Homo sapiens: one gene and its partners. The protein of the gene in region 4 purifies or fractionates together with the protein of the main gene of each other region. This does not show direct contact. Each region holds a gene or a part of one and is shown on either strand. Other genes may lie near its edges.

Evidence for each region. The genes of interacting proteins can lie anywhere in the genome.
Region 1: the proteins of FBXL13 (region 4) and HSPBP1 purify together in Homo sapiens (affinity purification with mass spectrometry, with the first as the bait; one large-scale study listed by BioGRID). This does not show direct contact.
Region 2: the proteins of FBXL13 (region 4) and PPP6R1 purify together in Homo sapiens (affinity purification with mass spectrometry, with the first as the bait; one large-scale study listed by BioGRID). This does not show direct contact.
Region 3: the proteins of FBXL13 (region 4) and CEP152 purify together in Homo sapiens (affinity purification with mass spectrometry, with the first as the bait; one large-scale study listed by BioGRID). This does not show direct contact.

The regions. Positions count from the first base shown.
Region 1 is NC_000019.10:55,265,600-55,270,850, forward strand, and holds part of HSPBP1 (hsp70-binding protein 1), read right to left. Parts: intron 688-5,251; coding exon 532-687; intron 384-531; coding exon 287-383; intron 1-286. UniProt on the Homo sapiens protein: Inhibits HSPA1A chaperone activity by changing the conformation of the ATP-binding domain of HSPA1A and interfering with ATP binding. Interferes with ubiquitination mediated by STUB1 and inhibits chaperone-assisted degradation of immature CFTR.
Region 2 is NC_000019.10:55,231,138-55,235,757, forward strand, and holds part of PPP6R1 (serine/threonine-protein phosphatase 6 regulatory subunit 1), read right to left. Parts: intron 1,075-4,620; coding exon 938-1,074; intron 846-937; coding exon 665-845; intron 532-664; coding exon 461-531; intron 355-460; coding exon 273-354; intron 1-272. UniProt on the Homo sapiens protein: Regulatory subunit of protein phosphatase 6 (PP6). May function as a scaffolding PP6 subunit. Involved in the PP6-mediated dephosphorylation of NFKBIE opposing its degradation in response to TNF-alpha.
Region 3 is NC_000015.10:48,751,059-48,756,309, forward strand, and holds part of CEP152 (centrosomal protein of 152 kDa), read right to left. Parts: coding exon 4,845-5,251; intron 1,412-4,844; coding exon 1,291-1,411; intron 1-1,290. UniProt on the Homo sapiens protein: Necessary for centrosome duplication; the function also seems to involve CEP63, CDK5RAP2 and WDR62 through a stepwise assembled complex at the centrosome that recruits CDK2 required for centriole duplication.
Region 4 is NC_000007.14:103,021,565-103,026,815, forward strand, and holds part of FBXL13 (F-box and leucine-rich repeat protein 13), read right to left. Parts: intron 3,667-5,251; coding exon 3,499-3,666; intron 1-3,498. UniProt on the Homo sapiens protein: Substrate-recognition component of the SCF (SKP1-CUL1-F-box protein)-type E3 ubiquitin ligase complex.

The sequences.
Region 1 (5,251 bases), on a different chromosome or scaffold from region 4:
TCAACTCTGGTGTGCTGTTGAGAGCTCCAGCATCATCTGATTAGACACTAATCCACTGGTGGGGGCGTGTACAGAAGCCTCTCTCCCTCCTGCAAGGCCTCTGTGCCAGCCCTACTGGTGAGGAAACTGAGGCTCCCTGACTCCTGCTCCTTTCTGGCCCCACACCCTTCCTCTCTACGGGAAGGTCCCAACTCCTGAGTCCCTACGGGCTGATTCCTGAGCCACCCCCACCTTGAGAGGACGGGGCCCCCACCCCAGGCCCCGTCCTCTCAAGGAGCCAAAGTACCTGCACAGGGCTCCAAGCACGTGCTCGTGGAAGGGGCTGTGCTCTGTCCGCACCAGGGCCACCAGCTGCTGGACCATCCCCATGGAGCACAGGGTCCCTGGGGGGAGGGCTGCAGGGGTCAGAGGGGCAGCCCCACCCATCTCCTATGCCCTCCCCGGGATGCCTGTTCCTCCCCTTCTCCCACACCTGCACCCACCCCAGGGCGTCTGCTCCCCACTCCTGCCCTCACTCAAGGGCTGCCACACCTTTGTGTTCAGGGTGGCCCACCAGCAGGTTCTGCAGCAGGAATGCTGATTTGACCTTGAGCTTCTGCACCTGCTGCTGCATGGCCCTCATCAACACAGAGAAGCCGTCCAGGCGGAGGAACTGCAGCAGCCCAGCCTCCTGCTCTCGGACCAGACCTGGGAGAGGGGGAAAGGTCCTGAGCTTGCAGTCACCACCACCACCACTGTCATCACAAGCACCATCACCAACATCATCACAACCACCATCACCAACATCATCATCACCACCATCACCACTATCTTCACCACCATCACAATCATCATCATCACCATTCTCATCCTCACCACCATCACCATCACCACCATCCTCACCACCACCACCATCACTATCACCATCACCACCACCACCATCACCACCACCATCATCACCATGACATCACCAACATCACCATCACTATCACCATCACTATCACCATCACCACCACATCACCATCACCGCCATCATCATCACTACCATTAACAATATAATTATCGTCAATCATCGTCACCATCATCACCACCAACCACTATCATCCCTTGCCATGGGCCTGCATATGCAAGCATTATCTTTTTTTGAAGTATGCTTTTGAGATATAATTCACAATCCACACAGTTCAGCCTTTTAAAGATATTCACAGGGTTGTATAACCATCACCACTAACTCTAGGAAATTTTCATCACCCCCCAAAGGAAACCTATGAGCAGTCATTCCCAATTTCCCTTCCCTCTGGCCCCTGCAACCACAGATATACTTTCTTCCTTTATGGATTTACCTGTCCCAGACATTTAATATAAATGTGTCCATAAAATACGTGACCTTTTGTGTCTGACTGCTTTCACTCAGCATGATGTTTTCCAGGTTCATTCATGTCGTAAGTGGTATCAGCACTTCATTCTTTTTCATGGCTGAATAACATTCCATTGTATGGATATACCATATTTTATCCATTCCTCCATTGATGGAAGCATCATCTTTTTTAATTTTTTTATTTTATTTATTTACTTATTTATTTCATTTTGAGATGGACTCTCGTTCTGTTGCCCAGGCTGGAGTGTGCAGTGGAGCAATCTTGGCTCACTGTAACCTCCGCTCGCAGGTTCAAACTATTCTTCAGCCTCAGCCCCCCAAGTAGCTGGGATTATAGTAACCTGCCACCACACCCGGCTAATTTTTGTATATATAGTAGAGACAGGGTTTCACCATGTTGGCCAGGTTGGTCTCAAGCTCCTGACCTAAAGTGATCCACCTGCCTGGGCCTCCCAAAGTGCTGGGATTACAGGCATGAGCCATTGCGCCCGGCTGTGTCATCTCTCTCTTTTTTTTTTTTTTGAGACAGAGTCTTGCTCTATCATCCAGGCTAGAGTGCAGTGGCACCATTTTGGCTCACTGCAACCTCTGCTTCCCAGGCTCAAGCTATTCTCCTGCCTCAGACTCCCGAGTAGCTGGGATTACAGGTATGCACCACTACACCCAGCTAATTTTTGTATTTTGAGTAGAGACAGGGTTTTGCCATGTTGGCCAGGCTGGTATTGAACTCCAGACCTCATAATCCACCTGCCTCAGCCTCCCAAGGTGCTGGGATTACAGGCGTGAGCCACCGTCCCCAGTCCGCAACATCTTTTAATCCTCACAATTATCCTGGAAGTGTGTGCTTTCAGAATTCTATTTTACAGATGAGGAAACTGAGGCCTAAAGAGCCAGGCTACACAGCATGCATGACCTTTATCCAGAGGGCAATGAGAACTCTGGAAGGACTCCCAGCAGGATGAGAACTGACCTTTGGAGTGCACCTCCAGTAAGGTGCCCCCTCCTGGGTAGGCTCTAGGCCTGTGCTGGCCAAGAAGGACAGAAGCTGCTAGTAGCTTGTGGCCACTAAACACCTGATATGTGGCCAGTGCAACTAAGGAAAAGAGTTGTTCATTTCATTTAAGTTCCATTCATTTAAACTTAAGGTGAAAAACTGAAGCAGTGTAAAATATTTTCCATTAAACACAACGTTGGCTGGGCGCGGTGGCTCATGCCTGTAATCCCAGCACTTTGGGAGGCCGAGGTGGGCAGATCACTTGAGGTCAGGAGTTCGAGACCAGCCTGACCAACATGGTGAAACCCCGTCTCTACTAAAAATACAAAATTAGCTGGGCGTGGTGGCGTGCGTCTGTAATCCCAGCTACTAGGGAGGCTGAGGCAGGAGAATCATTTGAACCCGGGAGGTGGAGGTTGCAGTGAGCCGAGATTGCGCCATTACACTCCAGCCTGAGCAAAAAGAGCGAAACTCCATCTCACACACACACAAAAAGAAAACCAAAAAAAGAAAAACACACACAACGTTGTTGCTCTGGCGCACTCCACACTACCCCTGAAAACTCAGCATGTTGCGATGTGCTTCATTTGTAAAATGCACACACTAGGTTTTGAAGACTTAGCATGACAAAAAATACAGTGTCTCATTAATAGTCCATATTAATTACACATTGAAATTATAATAGTTTGGACATATTGGGTTACATATTTATTTATTTTAGTTTATTTTATTTCATTTTTGAGACAGAGTCTCGCTCTGTCGCCCAGGCTGGAGTGCAGTGGCAGTTGGCTCACTGCGACATACGTCTCTCGGGTTCAAGCAATTTTTATGCCTCAACCTACCGAGTAGCCGAGATTACAGGCATGCCCCACCATGCCTGGCTAATTTTTTGGTATTTTTAGTAGAGACAGGGTGTCACCATGTTGGCCAGGCTGGTCTTGAGCTCCTGGCTTCAAGTGATCCACCTGTCTCGGCCTCCCAAAATGTTGAGATTATAGGCATGAGTCACCACGCCCAGCCAGATGTTATTTAATTAAAGAAAGAAAAAAGAACAGGCATGCATGGACTGGAAAACACAAAGACTCCTCTCATTCAATCTGTAAGCAAGGCCTGTCAGCTCTACCTTCAAAATGTACCCAGGAGAGACCTGTCCCCTTTACGCCAGGGTTTCTCCACCTGGGCACGGTTGGTATCTGGGGCCAGATCATTCTGGGTTGGGAGGCCCGTCCTGTGCATTGCAGGATGTTGAGCAGCATCCCTGGCCTCTACCCAGTAGATGCCAATAGTCCCTCTCTCCCAGCTGCGACAACTAAAAATGTCTCCAGACATTTGTCTAAATGTCCTGTGGAGGACACGATTGTCCCTGTTTGAGAACCACTGCTCCCTACCACAACCTTGATCTCTTGCCTAGGTTATCACCATAACCCCCCAGCTCACCGCCCACCTTCCACCCACCCTCGCCGCATTCACCCTCTTCTCTGTGCAGCAGTTGGGGGCAGGGATCACAGTATGGCTGCCGTCATTTTTGGAAAGAAAGCCAAAGTCATCACTGCAGCCCACACATCTCCCTTAAAAAAGTTACGCTTATTCAGCGCTAAAAAGAAATGAGCTATCAAGCCAAGAAAAGACATGGAAGAACCTTAAAAGCAGATTACTAAGCCAAAGAAGCCAGTCGGAAAAGGCTGCAGATTGCATGGTTCCAAGCATATGACATTCTGGAAAAGGCAAAACTATGGAGACAGTAAAAAGCTCAGGGGTGGGATGACTAGCGGGAGCACAGAGGATTTGTAGGGCAGCGAGATTCCTCTGTAGAATACTACAGTATGGATCCATGTCATGATACAGTTGTCCAAACCCATAGTACATACAGCATCAAGAGTGCGCCCCAGTGTCAACTATGGACTCTGGGTGACAATGAGGTGTCCATGTAGGTTCATCGATTGTAATAAATGTGCCACTCTGGTAGACTGTAACAAGGAACCACTTTGGAGTGGCTCCACAGAGGGCGAGCGAGTCCATCCCCTCCTGTCCTGGGAAGGGCAGTGGCACCACCGCCTCGGGCAGCAGGAGCTGAGGGGACGTACCCTGCAAATGGCTCCCAGCACGGAACTCCAGTAATGGTACTGGACAGCCACACAATGGCATACCCTGCAGCCACCAAAAAAAAGGACAGATGCCACTGAATGGTATACTTTAACATTTTCATGTGAATTTTACCCCCGAGCAAAAAAAAGAATGGCATCCAAGCTCCCAGAGCTCTTGCCCTGCATCGTGCACAACTTTCGCTGGGGAAGCCGACCACCACGTGGTGAGGCCGCTCACGCAGCCCGAGCTTCCTGCCAACTGCCAGCAAAACTCTGCTAGCCCCGGGGCGAGCCATGGTGGAAGCCCATCTCTAGCACCCCTTCCTCAGAGGGGGATTGTGAGGGATCAATGAGGTGCAGCGCACAGGGCTTAGTGCAATGAGACCTTCAGGGAACGAGGCCCGGCTGACGGCTGACCACAACCTCATGCAACCTCATGCAACCTCATGAAGACGCAAAGCCAGAAGCCGCCCTCCTCAGCAGGGGCCACTGCTGCATTCCTCACCCGCAGGAAGGGGAAAGATAAGCTACTGTTGCTTAAGAAAAAAGGACAGAGGCAGGTCAAGGTGCGCCACAGTCAGGATGGCCTGTGCCAGCCGTGCACATCTGAGGAAACGAGATTAATCCGTGTGTCTGTGTGCACACATACCACACACGACACACTCCACATAAGCACACACCACACACCCCGTATACACACACCACATCCACACATCCCACACACGCCATGCACATCCACACACCACACATACGCACCACACATACACACCTCATATGCACCCCACATACCCCACACATATACATACATCCCCCCAG
Region 2 (4,620 bases), on a different chromosome or scaffold from region 4:
GGGTCTTCTGCATGCTCTCACCCTCCCAATCCTTCACACCCTCCAACGAGCCCTTCCCAACCCTGGGGCTCAAGGGCCCCAAGCATCCCAGGCTACTAAGAGAAGAACCAGCCTACAGAGTGCAAGGGGCTGGGGCACAACATGAGGCTGCGCCTGGGGGTCCTGCAAAGGAGGCCTGGAGCAGCTCAGGGACAAGATGAACCCAGAGCCCACCTCAGCGAAGAGGAGAAAAGACTTCTCCCGATACTAGGCAGCCCCACCTCGCTGCTCACCTGTCCGAGGAGCTGGGGGCAGAACGGATCCCGTGGAAGGTGGCCTGAAGGTCCCCGATGCTAACCAAGGCCTGGCAAGGGGCTGTGGGGGATAAGAGATCTCAGCTGCAGCTCCCAGCAAGCTCGGAGCTGGCCAGGCTGCTCTCTCTGCCCAGGGCCGCGGGTGGGCAGGGCAAAGCGGGGCTCACCTGAGGGCTCCGTGACTTTGCTGCCTTCTGTGGCTTCCTGAGGTGCTGAGGGGGGTGTGGGGTCCTGAGACCTGGTAGGCGAGAGAGGCAGCCCAAGGGGGCAGCTAGGGTTAGCACTCGAGCCTATGAGAGGACGGGGACCCCATGGCCACCTCCTGGCCTCGGGATACCAGCACCATTTAGCCCGTTCCATCCGGTTCTCACCTGAGCTGCAGGGCGTCACGGGCAGGAGGGCTGGCCAGGCTCTGAGTGGGGAGGCCCTGGGGCACACTGAGGGGCCCCTGTGGGGCTGGAGGCCCAGTGTGCAGCTCTTCCTCCCCGGAGACTCGGGGGCTGGTCGGGGCATCTGTAGGCACTGGGTCAAAGGTGGCTGTCCAGCTGGGGCCTGGGATAGAGGTGGGGGAGCGGGATGGAGGGTGAACTCAGTAGCAGGCAGACAGCCCTGTGTACACCTGACCACACCGCCCATTCATTCACCTGGAGGCTGAGGGCCAGGGCTGGGGTAGGACAGAGGGGTGGCCCCTCCACGGGCTGCACAGCCAATGCCCTCCTCGTCTTCCTCCTCCTCCTCGTCCTCCTCTTCTTCGTCCTCACTGTCTGTGCTGCCTCCACTCCTGCCCCAGAAACCACCTCGTCAGCTAGCTGTGTGGGACAGACCGGCCGACACCCATCCTGTTCCCTGCAGCCCAGGGTCAGCCCAAGGAGAGCGGGCTGGGATGACAGGCAGGTCACAGAAGGGTCCAGGGAGCCTGGGGTGTGACGACACCAGGAGAGGCTGGGAGAGGGAGTTCTGAGCCAACGGCAAGAACACAGGCGGGCAGGGACAGAATGCGGCCGTAAGGAGACCGTCCGTCGCCAGTCATCCGTGGAGGGCAGGCCCTGGGGAAGTGGGCTGAGCCTCAGCCATGGCAACCAGAGCAGACAGACCCACTCACCAGCTCTCAAGCCACCTCCCAGCCGTCACCTCACACGGTCACCACAGTGACAGGCCTTCCCACCAGCAGGCCCACCCTCTGGACAGAGGCTTCACACTACTCTCTCCCTCCAACTAGAAACTCCAAGAAGGCAGAGATGGCTGAGTTTTGCCACTGCTGTATCCTCAGCCCTGAGAAACCACCAGGCACCCATAGCTGCTCCAAAAACACTGGCTGAATGTTGACTAACACACACCTGTGAGCATGAAGAAAATCCAAGCAACCTACGTGCTGATCAACCGGGGAAGGGGTAAGCAAAGTAACACTAAAACTAAGCTTTAACAACGAGGGTGCACTCTGAAAAACGCCATCATTAGGCGATTTTGCTATTGTGTGAACATTCTAGAGTGCACTTACACACACCTGGATGGTGGCGCCTCCTGTACACCTAGGCTCTGTGGTATAGCCTATTGTTCCTAGACTACCGACCTATACAGCATGTTACAGTACTGAATACTACAGGCAATTCTAACAATGGTAAATGTTTGTGTATCTAAACATAGGAAAAATACAGCAAAAATAGAGGATTATAATCTCACGGGACCACTGTCATATGTGGTCCATCGCTGACCCAAAGATGCAGTATGGGACTATATACTATGTCTAAAATGCTGACCCAATATTTTTGTCTTAACAGAGTAACTGACTACTTTAACTGGAAAGTAATATATCTGTATATAGTTAAAAGTAAACTAAAATACTCAACGACTAAGGAGTATAAAGGAAGCCCCTCAACCTAACATAAGGCATCTACAAAACCCCACAACTAACAGCATGCTTACATGGCAAAACGCTGAATGCTTCCCCCTAAGATCAGGAACAAAACAAGGATGCCTGTTCTTGCCACTTCTGTTCAACATTGTCCCGGAGGCTAGCCAGGGCAACCAGGCAAGAAAAGGAAATTAAAATCATCCAGATTTGAAAGGAAGGAAAATGAACTCTATTCACATGACATGATTCTGTACATAGAAAATCCTAAGGAGTCCACTAAAACTATCAGAACTCATACATTAGTTCAGCAAGGTTGCAGGATGAAAGATCAACATACAAAAACCTATTGTATTTTCATATACTTGTAACAATCTGAAAACAATTTCAAGAAAATTCCATTTACAATAGTAACAGAAAGAAGAAAACAGGAATAAACTTAAAAGAAATACAAAGCCTCATACTCTAAAACCTACGAAACATTGTTGAAAGAAATTTTAAGACCTATATAAAAAGACATCCATGTTCACGTATTAGAAGACGCAAGGTGGCTTCTTGGTTGAAATTGACAAGCTGATCCTAAAATTCATATGGAATCTCAAGAAATCCCAAATAGGGCAAAACAATCTTTAAAAAGAAGAACAAGGTTGGAAAACTAAAACCTCCCATTTTCTTTTTTCTGTGAGATGGAGTTTCGTTCTTGTCACCCAGACTGGAGTGCAATGAATGGTGCGATCTCAGCTCACTGCAACCTCTGCCTGCCAGGTTCAAGCGATATTCCTGCCTCAGCCTCCTGAGTAGCTGGGATTACAGGCACCCACCACAGCCGGCTAATTTTTGTATTTTTAGTAGAGATGGGGTTTCACCATGTTGGCCAGGCTGGTCTCAAACTCCTGACCTCAGGTGATCCATCCACCTTGGCCTCCCAAAGTGCTGGGATTACAGGTGTGAGCCACCGTGCCCAACAAACCTCCCATTTTCAAAACTTACTATAAAGCAACAGCAACCAGGCCAGTGTGGTACTGGATAAAAACAACACACAGACTGATAGAACAGAACAGAGAGGGAAGAAACAAACTCATACATATGGTCAAATATTTCCTTTTTACACAGGTGCCAAGATGATTCAGTGGAGAAAGGACAGTGTCTTCAACAACTGGTGCAGGGAAAACTGGTTATCTATATGTAAAGGGATGAAGGTGGACCACCTCACATCATATACAAAATTTAGCTCAAAATGAATGGAAAACCATAGAAATAATGCTATAAAACTCTTAGAAGAAAAGAGAGGGCTAAGTCAAGATGCTGGATTTGGCAGTGACACACTTGTGCACCAACAACACGTGCAAGGGTATTCACAGCGGCCGCACTCACAGCGGCTGCACTCACAGCAGCGAGCAACAGGAACCTGCCCAAAGGCCTGTCAACTGCAGAACAAGCAATTCAGCTGCAGCTCATCATGCATGGCACTGCCCCACTGCACGAGAGCCAGGGGCACCCAAACACACAACAGGGAAGGAGCTCACAAGCAGAGTGTTGAGCAACAGAGGTCAGACATAAAAGGAGATGCTGTATGCTATATCAAGTGAAAACAGAGACAAAACTCATCTACAGGGTTAGAAGCCAGGACAACTTTACCCTCAGAAGGGAGGATACTGGCTAACAGAGGGGATGTGGGTACTGGGAAGGTCCTGCTCCTGGGTCTGGGCACTGAGGAAGGATATCCATTGGCCACACACTCAGGATCTGTATGTACACTTGTCTATACGCATGTTACATGTCAATAAAAAGTGAAAACAGCCTAATTCCGAAATCAAAAGTCATGAGTCAAAAACTCAGTTGCAGATGATGACTTAGTGTTCAGGCTGTCAAATCTACATGGCATGAACCCATTTCATCACAGCGACTCTGGGGCCGGCCAGTATTAAGAGAAAAAAAAAAAACAATGTAACATTTGCACTAAAATGTCATCACAGCCTGATTGGAGAGGGACGTCATCATCTCTCATTTTACTGGAATTAGAGAAGAGAGAAGCTGCCTGGGACCATCTTACCCCCCTTTCTAGGAAAACGTGTGAGAGCTAACACGAGGAAGTGAAGTGAAGGGATGAAGGAAGGAGACAGGGAGGCGGGAAGAGAGAGACACACACAGACCAAGCCATACCTCAGGACCTGCCTATTTTTTCAGCCACAGAGATTATCCCTTTCTTTTCATAACTTAACTCATTTGAATTAGATTCCTTTTTTTTTTTTTTTCTGAGACAGAGTCTCGCTCTGTCGCCCAGGCTGGAGTACAGTGGCGCAATCTTGGCTCACTGCAAGCTCCGCCTTCCGGGTTCACGCCATTCTCCTGCCTCAGCCTCCCAAGTCGCTGGGACCACAGGTGCCCGCCACCACGCCCGGCAAATTTTTTGTATTTTTAGTAGAGACGGGGTTTCACCATGTTAGCCAGGATGGTCTTGATCTCCTGACCTCGTGA
Region 3 (5,251 bases), on a different chromosome or scaffold from region 4:
AGGACAACATAACCAAACATCCAACAGTGGTACTCTCTGGTGGTAGGATTTTAAAGGACTTTATCACTTAATACATGTTTTGTATTATTTAATCCTTTCTAATGAATTTATTAATGTGTTTGTTTTTAAGGGAAAAAAGACTAAAGAAAAATATTTTTATAGTCTGATTTTTCTTTGGCCAAAACTAATTGCTTTTATATTTATAGGACTTCCTAAAGCTAAGTAACATCCAAAACTTGTTTCTACCCATTCATTTCACAGATTAAGATAGAATTCTCAGGCTATTCCAAACAGGGCATAAAAAGTACAATGCAAAATACAAATTAAGGTAATATTATCATCCACTGAATTGGCAGTAAGATATTCTCAGCCACCTAGAACCTAGAAGTAGGGGAAAAGGGTTTGTGAACAATGAGAAAGGCAGAGATGGTATAGGCAGAGATTCTCTAAGATTCTGGTAACATTGCCTTCTGAATTAGAAATGTGTGCAAACTGAGGTTATTTACTTAGTAGGTATGACTGGCCTTGGCAATTATTAGTTCTTTTCCAGGTTACATTAGAAACAGCAAATAAGCAGCAGAGAGAGGCTGTTGCGTTTGTGTGGGGAGGAAAGGAGTAGGCTGCAAAGGGTCAAGAAGCTAAAAGAGATGGGAGCTAATAAAGGATTTGCAAATTTCTAGCTCTGAAATCTCCATGAATAGGCAATATAAGTCCTATACTCCTCAGTAAGCTCTGAATACAAGCGGCTCTAGTACAGTATAAGAATTCTTTTGTCATGATGAAGAGTCTAAGTCATTAAGGAAAAGTTAAACTATTAATTCATCACTCTGCCATACGTTGGAAAGGAAGAGATTAAAAACACTGCCCAGGCCCTCAGAAAAACTCACAAATCAATTAGAAAACATCTAATACATTTCAGAAAGATTTCCATTAAAAAGTGATTGAAATTAGTTTCAGTAATTTGAATGAAAAAGTCTGTATTACTTGGCAATTCTCTGATGTGAAACCCTTGATTTCAGGGAATAAAAACATGACTTCTCCATTAAAACTCTCATGATTCTCCTTGTAACAAGAATCAGTTGTGAATGAAGGGAAAACCATAAATAGAAGAAGAGGGCCTAAATTAACCCTCTTATCTAAATACAAAATGAAATCTAGGAAGAGGGGACATTAAGTCAGACGATTATTACCCATTTGTTCACATCTATGATCTCCTTTTATCCTCAAAGCAACCCTTCAGATGGGTGATTATGGATGCTACAAAGACTGGTGGGAACAAAATCCAATTACCAGCTTCTGCTTCTGTTGCTTGTAAGGCCAAGGGCTGAGCATGGTGTCCAGCAGCAGGTCCAGGGTCTCCTTGGCCAGTGCCCTGGCTGGCAGAATCCTTAGAGAGCTCGGCCATATTTCTCTGAAATAAAGTATCTTCAAAGTTAATGCTTAGTAAAAATCTTTATACAATTTTATATTTAAAATGCTAATATTAAAAATACAAAGAGAAAACACTACCTGAAAAAAATCTTGCCTGAACTATCTATCGCCAATATTTTTCTTAGGGTGTTATATAAGTACTGTCACTGTACTAGGAACTAGCTTCCTATGAAACTTTCCAAATAAGAACACTGTCTGACAGGCGACTGGTGGGCAGCTATGAGACAGACAGAAGATATGGTTTGCACATTATATATGTGAATTTGAGATTTTTCAATGGTTTACGTGATTAAACCACATGAAAGACAATATAAAATCAGAATTGTTCTTGAAAATCTAGAACATTTTTACTACAGCAAGGAACAAGTTAATTAGCAAGTATAATGCTAACCCTCTGCCTCCTATGAATTGAAAATAACAGTTAAAAATCATTTTAAATTTATATAGTACTTCATATGCTTCTAAATACTTTAACATACACAGTAATTTTGTAAGGAAGGCCAGCTGAATGCCAAAGTTAAGGACAGAAACTGAGGCTTAGCTAAATTAAACATCTTGCACAAGACCATTTCTTCACTAATATTTATTGAACGTTTTTATGTTCCAGTCCTTGTCACAGCAATACAGCTACTAAATCAATGGATTTTTCATTTTTGGTTTTTGTTTTGAGATGGAGTCCTCCTCTATCGGCCAGGCTGAAGGGCATTGGCGCGATCTCAGCTCACTGCAACCTCCACCTCCCAGTTCAAGCGATTCTCCTGCCTCAACCCTCGTGATCCGCCTGCTTTGGCCTCCCAAAGTACTGGGATTACAGGTGTGAGCCACCACGCTCAGCCAAATCAATGGATTTTTATGGTAATGTTTTCAGATTTAAGATGACTACTAAATCGGAAAGGAACAGAATAGGTGGTATGGAGAAAGTAGTCTTACTGATTATTTAAAACATACTATATATGCCTGATTCTAGAAGCCTTGATTTTGATTATGAGAAACCACTTAATTGACTGTCAGAAAACCTACTTACAATGTCCAACAGAAGCAGAGGTTAGCAATTATAGAGAAGAGGCAATCAAGAAGCTATGGGTTTGAGGTCAAAAGGAGTAGGAAAAGCTGAACCAAAATGCAGTCAGTGCTTCCAGTTTTTACTCAAAACTGGGGAAGAAAAGTCAAGATAACAGAAAAGGGAGAAAAGCAACAACCTTTTTGTCTCAGTTTTAACTTGACTTTGATGGTAAAAGAGACAACATACATCCTTAAGTTTGCTTGAAAATTTTGTTCCATTTGATATTTGTTTTATCTGTTATGAACTACTGTATTAATATATTTTGATATGGCATTCATTTTCTTGAAAGCTATATTTTTCATTCATTGCATCCTCTCCATTTAAAAAAACTTTTGATTGTCTCAGTTATTTTAATGAGGACTTGTTTTTATATATTAATAAACCATCTTTTGTTTTAATTTCCATGAACAATTTTTAAAACTAGAGAGTTAATAAATTATAAATTATAGTTCCTCACATTTACAGCACCTATGTAACAAATTTAAAATCACTGCTCTATAATCATAGCTTTACCTCAAGGTCCTGAGTGAAGATAGCTCGAAAATGGCAGAAGGTCAAGTATTACTTCTATGACAAATTCCAGATTAGGCATTTCAAAGCCATCCTTTTCTCAGGAATGGAATCTGACCCACCCAACAAAAGCCGTAAACATCTAAATTCTTAGCCAGATTATGTGATTCTGTCTCCATAGACTTATGAGCCTCATTAAGTCACACAGATGATCTTATACTGCTTGCACAATTATAAGCCCTGTAAAAAGACTCCAGGGTTGATTTTATATGTATATATTAATGGTAGGAGAAAGGTGTCATAGTTTCTTGATTTTTATAACAGATTTTATAACTGTTATAAAAATCGAAACATGCTTACAAACGAAAGCATGTAAACATGATTTTCCCATCATTTCTCATCTCCAAATCTGCTATAATTTTTTAATTATATGTTTTCTCCAAGTTATTTTAATTATTTTCTCCAAAAAATCTCAATTAAGTGTGAAGCAGTATTCATGGGAAGTGATCTTGCCCAGTAAATTTTACATTGAAGGCAACTACTCGGTAGCAACATCTTTGTGAGGTCAAGGATAAAAATATCAACTGGGGTGAAGTAGGATGGAGTGAGCTGATCTTTCAGGTCCCTTCTGGCTCTAAAATTCTATACTGTTTCAAATGCAGGACCCAGAAAGGCTAAGCTGTGCCATGCATATCCTACCCAAACCCAAGGAATTAGGCCGGGGATTTGTATTTTATTTTTCCAGTGAGCAACTATGTGATTGCCCAATATAATAATCTAGTTATCATCGAATATGGAACTGAAACTCAAGGTTATTTTTTCTAGTTTATAACTCTCCCAAGTAGGTATTAATACCAAATGCTCAATCCTGGCCTTGAAACTCCTTAATCACAATATTTTGATGGAACTTCACTCTTAAGTCTCAACTCTATTAGACAAACCTTATAATACTGGCTTTTTTTTTTTTCCTGCCTCTAATCCCAAATGTTGAAATTGGCTAATCACCATGCTCAGAATATCATTCTGGATCTTTCATGCATACCTAATTGCTTTGATCATAAGGTAGCAAGAATTTGGTTTTACTGAAACTTTCATACAAATTAAAAGCTGGTCTCAGAGAGTACTTATATAACTAAAAGAATATAATTAATTCTATATGCACATATATAGTACATCCAGAAACTGGGCTTCAGAGTTTTATGCGAGTGAGTCGTATTTATTTGCTTGTTTCTATATCAATACCTTTGTACTTGGTTGGCATTTTTTTGCCTAAATGAGACATAAATTTATTGAGGGCAATAAATAGGCTTCCAAACTCTTTACAAGCTTTTAAGAAACTCTTATTATGCATATTTCATGAAGTGGTCAGGCCCAGAAAACAGAATTTTGAAAAAAAAATTTTCAGTTTCTGAAATCTCAGGCCCTTAGAAAGAACAGCATATATTCTTTATTTTATTTTAAGTTCTGGGATACATGTGCTGAACGTGAAGGTTTACTACATAGGTATACATGTGCCATGGTGGTTTGCTGCACCTATCAACCTGTCATCTAGGTTTTAGGCCCCGCATGCATTAGGTATTTGTCCTAAATATTCTTTAGGAAAAAGATATTTAGAGGCTAAAATCTTGTCTTGTATTTGTGACACTATGAAGTAGTAAAGTTTTTTGGCAACGAAACATGCAAACCTTTGGATTTCGCTACAGAAACTTTTTTAAACCACTGACAAAAACATAAGACTTACATCTACTAAAATTTAAAAGGAAAAAAGGAAAAAACACTATATACAACTTCTATAATCATTCTTGGTGTTCAATACCTTCTCTCACTCTCAGGAACATACCTTTTTCCATTCTGGGTCAGCGTTTTCTACAAGCAGAGGAAGTGTATCTTGAAATGCTTTCTGTATGCAGCCCTTTAGTTTTTCAAAATATTGCACAGACATCCATTTTGAAGAACAAGTCGACATGATTTCCAAAAGCTGCTTGTCCTCAGAATCACTGATGTGCTCCTTTTGGGTATCACTTAAAAGAACCCCAAGTACAGTCAGGATGTCTTCCTCATACTGATAGATTTCCAGTTGGATCCGCTTGGCTTCCTGCATAGTCCATTCTCTACGACTCTGGTCTAGACAAGTTTGTAATTCTGTCTCCTTCTGAAGAAGTAGTTCAGTTTTTTGTTTCATAAAGTCTTCTTTAGCTGCCGCAAGCACCTCATTAATTTTATTTCGGTGATCATCTAAAAATTGCC
Region 4 (5,251 bases):
AATTTTTGCAATCTACTGATCTGGCAAAGGGCTAATATCCAGAATCTACAAAGAACTTAAACAAATTTGCAAGAAAAAATCAAACAACCCCATCAAAAATGGGCAAAGGATATGAACAGACACTTCTCAAAAGAAGACATTTATGCAGCCAACAGACACATGAAAAAATGCTCATCATCCCTGGCCATCAGAGAAATGCAAATCAAAACCACCATGAGATACCATCTCATACCAGTTAGAATGGTGATCATTAAAAAGTCAGGACACAAGTGCTGGAGAGGATGTGGAGAAATAGTAACACTTTTACACCGTTGGTGGGACTGTAAACTAGTACAACGATTGTGGAAGTCAGTGTGGTGATTCCTCAAGGATCTAGAACTAGAATTACCATTTGACCCAGCCATCCCATTACTGAGTATATACCCAAAGGATTATAAATCATGCTGCTATAAAGACACATGCACACGTATGTTTATTGCGGCACTAGTCACAATAGCAAAGACTTGGAACCAACCCAAATGTCCAACAATGATAGACTGGATTAAGAAAATGTGGCACATATATACCATGGAATACTATGCAGCCATAAAAAATGATGAGTTCATGTCCTTTGTAGGGACATGGATGAAGCTGGAAACCATCATTCTCAGCAAATTATCACAAGGACAGAAAACCAAACACCGCATGTTCTTACTCATAGGTGGGAATGGAACAATGAGAACACATGGACACAGGATGGGGAACACCACACACCAGGGCCTGTAGTGGGGTGGGGGGAGGGGTGAGGGATAGCATTAGGAGATATACCTAATGTAAATGACGAGTTAATGCGTGCAGCACACCAACATGGCACATGTATACATATGTAACAAACCTGCACGTTGTGCACATGTACCCTAGAACTTAAAGTATAAAAAAAAAAACCAGAAATATAGACTAATGGAACAGAATAAAGAGCCCAGAAATAATGCCACACATCTACACAATCAAGAAAAACAAGCAACAGGGAAAGAACTCTTCATTCAATAAATGATACTGGGATAACTGGCTAGCCACACGCGGAATATTGAAACTGGACCACTTCCTTACACCATATACAAAAATCAACTCAATATAGATGCAAGACTTAAATGTAAAACTTAAAACTATAACAACCCTGGAAGATAACCTAGGAAATACCATTCTGGGCATAGAACTTGGCAAAAATTTCATTATGAAGATGCCAAAAGCAATTGCAACAAAAACAAAAATTAACAAATGGGGCCTAATTAAACAAAAGAACTTCTAGCAGCAAAAGAAACTATCAACAGAATAAACAGACAACCTATAGAATGGTATAAAACATTTGTGAACTATACATCCAACAGAAGTCTAATATCCACAATCTATAAGGATCTTAAACAAATTTACAAGAAAAAAACACCACCATTAGCCAGGCACGGTGGCTCATGCCTGTAATCCCAGCACTTTGGGAGGCCGAGGCGGGTGGATCACGAGGTCAGGAGATCGAGACCATCCTGGCTAACACGGTGAAACCCCGCCTCTACTAAAAATACAAAAAATTAGCCGGGCGTGGTGGCGGGCACCTGTGGTCCCAGCTACTCAGGAGGCTGAGGCAGGAGAATGCCGTGAAACCGGGAGGTGGAGCCTGCAGTGAGCTGAGATCGCGCCACTGCACTCCAGCCTGAGCGACAGAATGAGACTCCGTCTCAAACAAAACAAAACAAAACAGAACAAAACAAAAAAAAATACCATTAAAAGAGTGGTGAAAACAGACAAACAAACACTTCTTAGAAGACATACAGGCAACCAATGAGCATATGAAAAAATGCTCAACATCACTAATCATTAGAGAAATGTAAATCTCACACCAGTTAGAATGGCTATTATTAAAAAGTCAGAAAATAACAGATACTGGCAAGGTTACAGAGAAAAGGAAATGCTTACACACTGCTGGTGGGAATGTAAATTAGCTCAGCCATTGTGGAAAGCAGTTTGGCCATTTCTCAAAGAACATAAAACAGAATTGCCATTCAACCCAACAATCCCATTATTGGGTATATGCCCAAAGGAATATAAATCATTCTACCATAAAGACACATGCATGCATATGCACATCACAGCACTATTCACAATAGCAAAGATATGAAATCAACCTAAATGCCCATCAACAGTAGACTGGATTTTTTAAAATGTGGTATATATATACATTGAAATACTATGCAGCCATAAAAAAGAATGAGATCATGTCCTTTGCAGCAACATGGACGGAGTTGGAGACCATTATCCTAGGCAAACTAACACAGAGACAGAAAACCAAATACTACACATTCTCACTTACAAGTGGAAGCTAAACTTCTGAGTACATATGGACACAAAGAAAGGAAGAACAGACACCAGGATCTACTTGAGGGTGGAGGTGGGAGGATGGTGAGGATTGGAGAAGTATCTATTGAATGCTAGGCTTATAACCTGGGTGACAAAATATACACCAAATTCCTATGACACGCAATTTACCTACATATAACAAACCTTCACATGTACTCCCTCAACCTAAAATAAAAGTTAAAAAGAGAGAGAGAGAGAGAGAGAGAGAGAGAGAGAGAGAGAGAGAGAGAGAGAAATAATTAGGGCAAGGATGACAGACTTTATTACATAAAGCTTTAAAATTTCTGTCATCAGCCGGGTGTGGTGGTTCATGCCTGTAATCCCAGCACTTTGGGAGGCCAAGGTGGGTGGATCACCTGAGGTCAGGAGTTTAAGACCAGCCTGGCCAATATGGTGAAACCCCATCTCTACTAAAAATACAAAAAATTAGCTGGGCGTAGTGGTGGGCACCTGTAATCCCAGCTACCTGGAGGCTGAGGCTGGAGAATCGCTTGAACCCAGGAGGCGGAGGTTGCAGTGAGCTGAGATTGCACCAATGCACTTCCAGCCTGGGCAACAAGAGCGAAACTCCATCTCAAAAAAAAAAAAAAAAAAAAAAAATTCTGTCACCAGAAGACTCCACAAGCAAAACTGAAAGCAAACATCAAGTGTGGGGGAAAAAAATCTCCAAATATATTCCAAAGGGCTAATATTGCCAATATAAAGAGCTACTACAAACCAGTAAGAAAATTATAGGAATTACAATGTAAAAACAGACAAGATAGGAGCAGGTAATTTGTAAAGGAAGAAATAATGGGCAAAAATATCCTTATTCTAACTGAATGCAATACATCAAGAGTAGGATTATAGTGTATACATACATATATATGTATATATATGTGTATATATATATATATATATATATATTTTTTTTTTTTTTTTTTTTGAGATGGAGTTTTGCTATTGTCGCCCAGGCTGGAGTGCAATGGTGTGATCTCGGCTCACTGCAACCTCTGCCTCCTGGGTTCAAGCAATTCTCCTGTCTCAGCCTCCCAAGCAGCTGGGATTACAGGCATGCACCACCACACTTGGCAGATTATAGTATATAATGTATACTGAATTCATACAAACCTGTAATATTGCTCTTTCAGGTAACAGTGAAATGTCACATTTTAGAGTCTCATCTACAAGAAAGACTTCAGAAGAACTTCGTTCAGGAAAATTGGATTCTTCTGCAGCAGCTCTTTTGAGTATTAACCTATTTTTCCATTTTTTCAATTGAAGTTCATGTTTTAATATCTGCAATGAAAATAATTTTAAAATTCCATGGAATTGCTGTAACGGTCAAGAGAGATGACAGACACAAAGCACAGTGCTTGACACAAGAATAGGACCAATTAAACATTATTTATGATCGTCATCATTACTACATAAACTATAATTTTTCATAAGCATGTTTAATGTTCTCTAAACCACCGAAGTATTACAGATCATTTCCATTAGTTGTCATAAAACACTGGCACAGGCAGCCATCTTGAAACGCTGATCTAGTCTCCTCTTTCACAGATGAGGAAGTGAGGACCACAAAGTCAAGGCTCTGGCAATGATAAAACTGGTAATTGGTGCATGGAGTGAAGGTGATTAACATACAGATAACAAAAAAGGGAAGTCAGTAGTAATGCATTTGGGAAATTGCCAAATTTATTGTCACAGGAAGTCCCCATTTTAACTTTTGATACACTTCTGAAAACTGTGTAATAAATAAAGGTAGTATTTCAGTCATAAACATATACACAATATTGGCATAATATATATTGATGTAATATATATATGTGTATGTGTGTATGTATGTATGTATGTGTCTGTGTATATACACACACATATTAGAGCCTGAGGCAGAACACATGTGGAGCGCTTGACACACAGGTGTTCCCTGCCTCTGCTCCCAGCATACACTTGCCATCCTCACTCCATTTAAGTGAATGTAGAATGATTGTTAGGTCAATAAATCATATATCTAGAAAAAAAGTTCTCTAAACACACAATTAACTATATAATATATATAATATACATATATCTTGATGATATTATAGTACATATAGCATAAATTATATATATTAATATATATCAACCACTGTGTGCAAAACATTACGCTCAGCATATGGACAATACTAAGAGAACAATACTGCCTGCTCTCAGGGATTTTTTTGTTTGTTTGTTTTTTGAGAAGGAGTTTCGCTTTTGTCGCCCAGGCTGGAGTGCAGTGGCGTGATCTCGGCTCACTGCATCCTCCACCTCAAGGGTTCAAGAGATTCTCCTGACTCAGCCTCCCAAGTAGCTGGGATTACAGGGGCCCACCACCATGCCTGGCTAATTTTTATATTCAGGGATGTTTAGCTGAAGGGGGTGTATAAGGGGGGACTGGTCATGTACAGTTACCTATTTCACTATTAGACAATCAGTGATCAGGCATAGAGGGCAGTTATCAAAACACTAGCTTAACATACAGACTGGTGGAAAGCAGTGAATGAGCAGACTAACATAGTATTAGGTACCCAAAGTAGAGCTGTTTCACTGGTAACATTGAAAAGGTAGTTTGCAAAAGGCAAAGCCTAGAGGACAGCCTGCAAGACCACCAGCTCAAAACCTATAGATTATAAACTTCTAGAGAGCATCTCAAGTAATCTCTGAGATGCTTAAAGCTCAGCACAGGCTCTAGCATTGTTTTAGGCATATGTAAGTAATAAATCTCCTCATACTCTTTTGCTGCGTGTGTGCTATTGTCAGTCTCAACATCTGAACCAAATTTAGGTGAGTAGAGGCATTGATCCATGGGGCAACCACAAAAGAAGGGGATTTAACTTCACCCCACATTCTCTTTCCT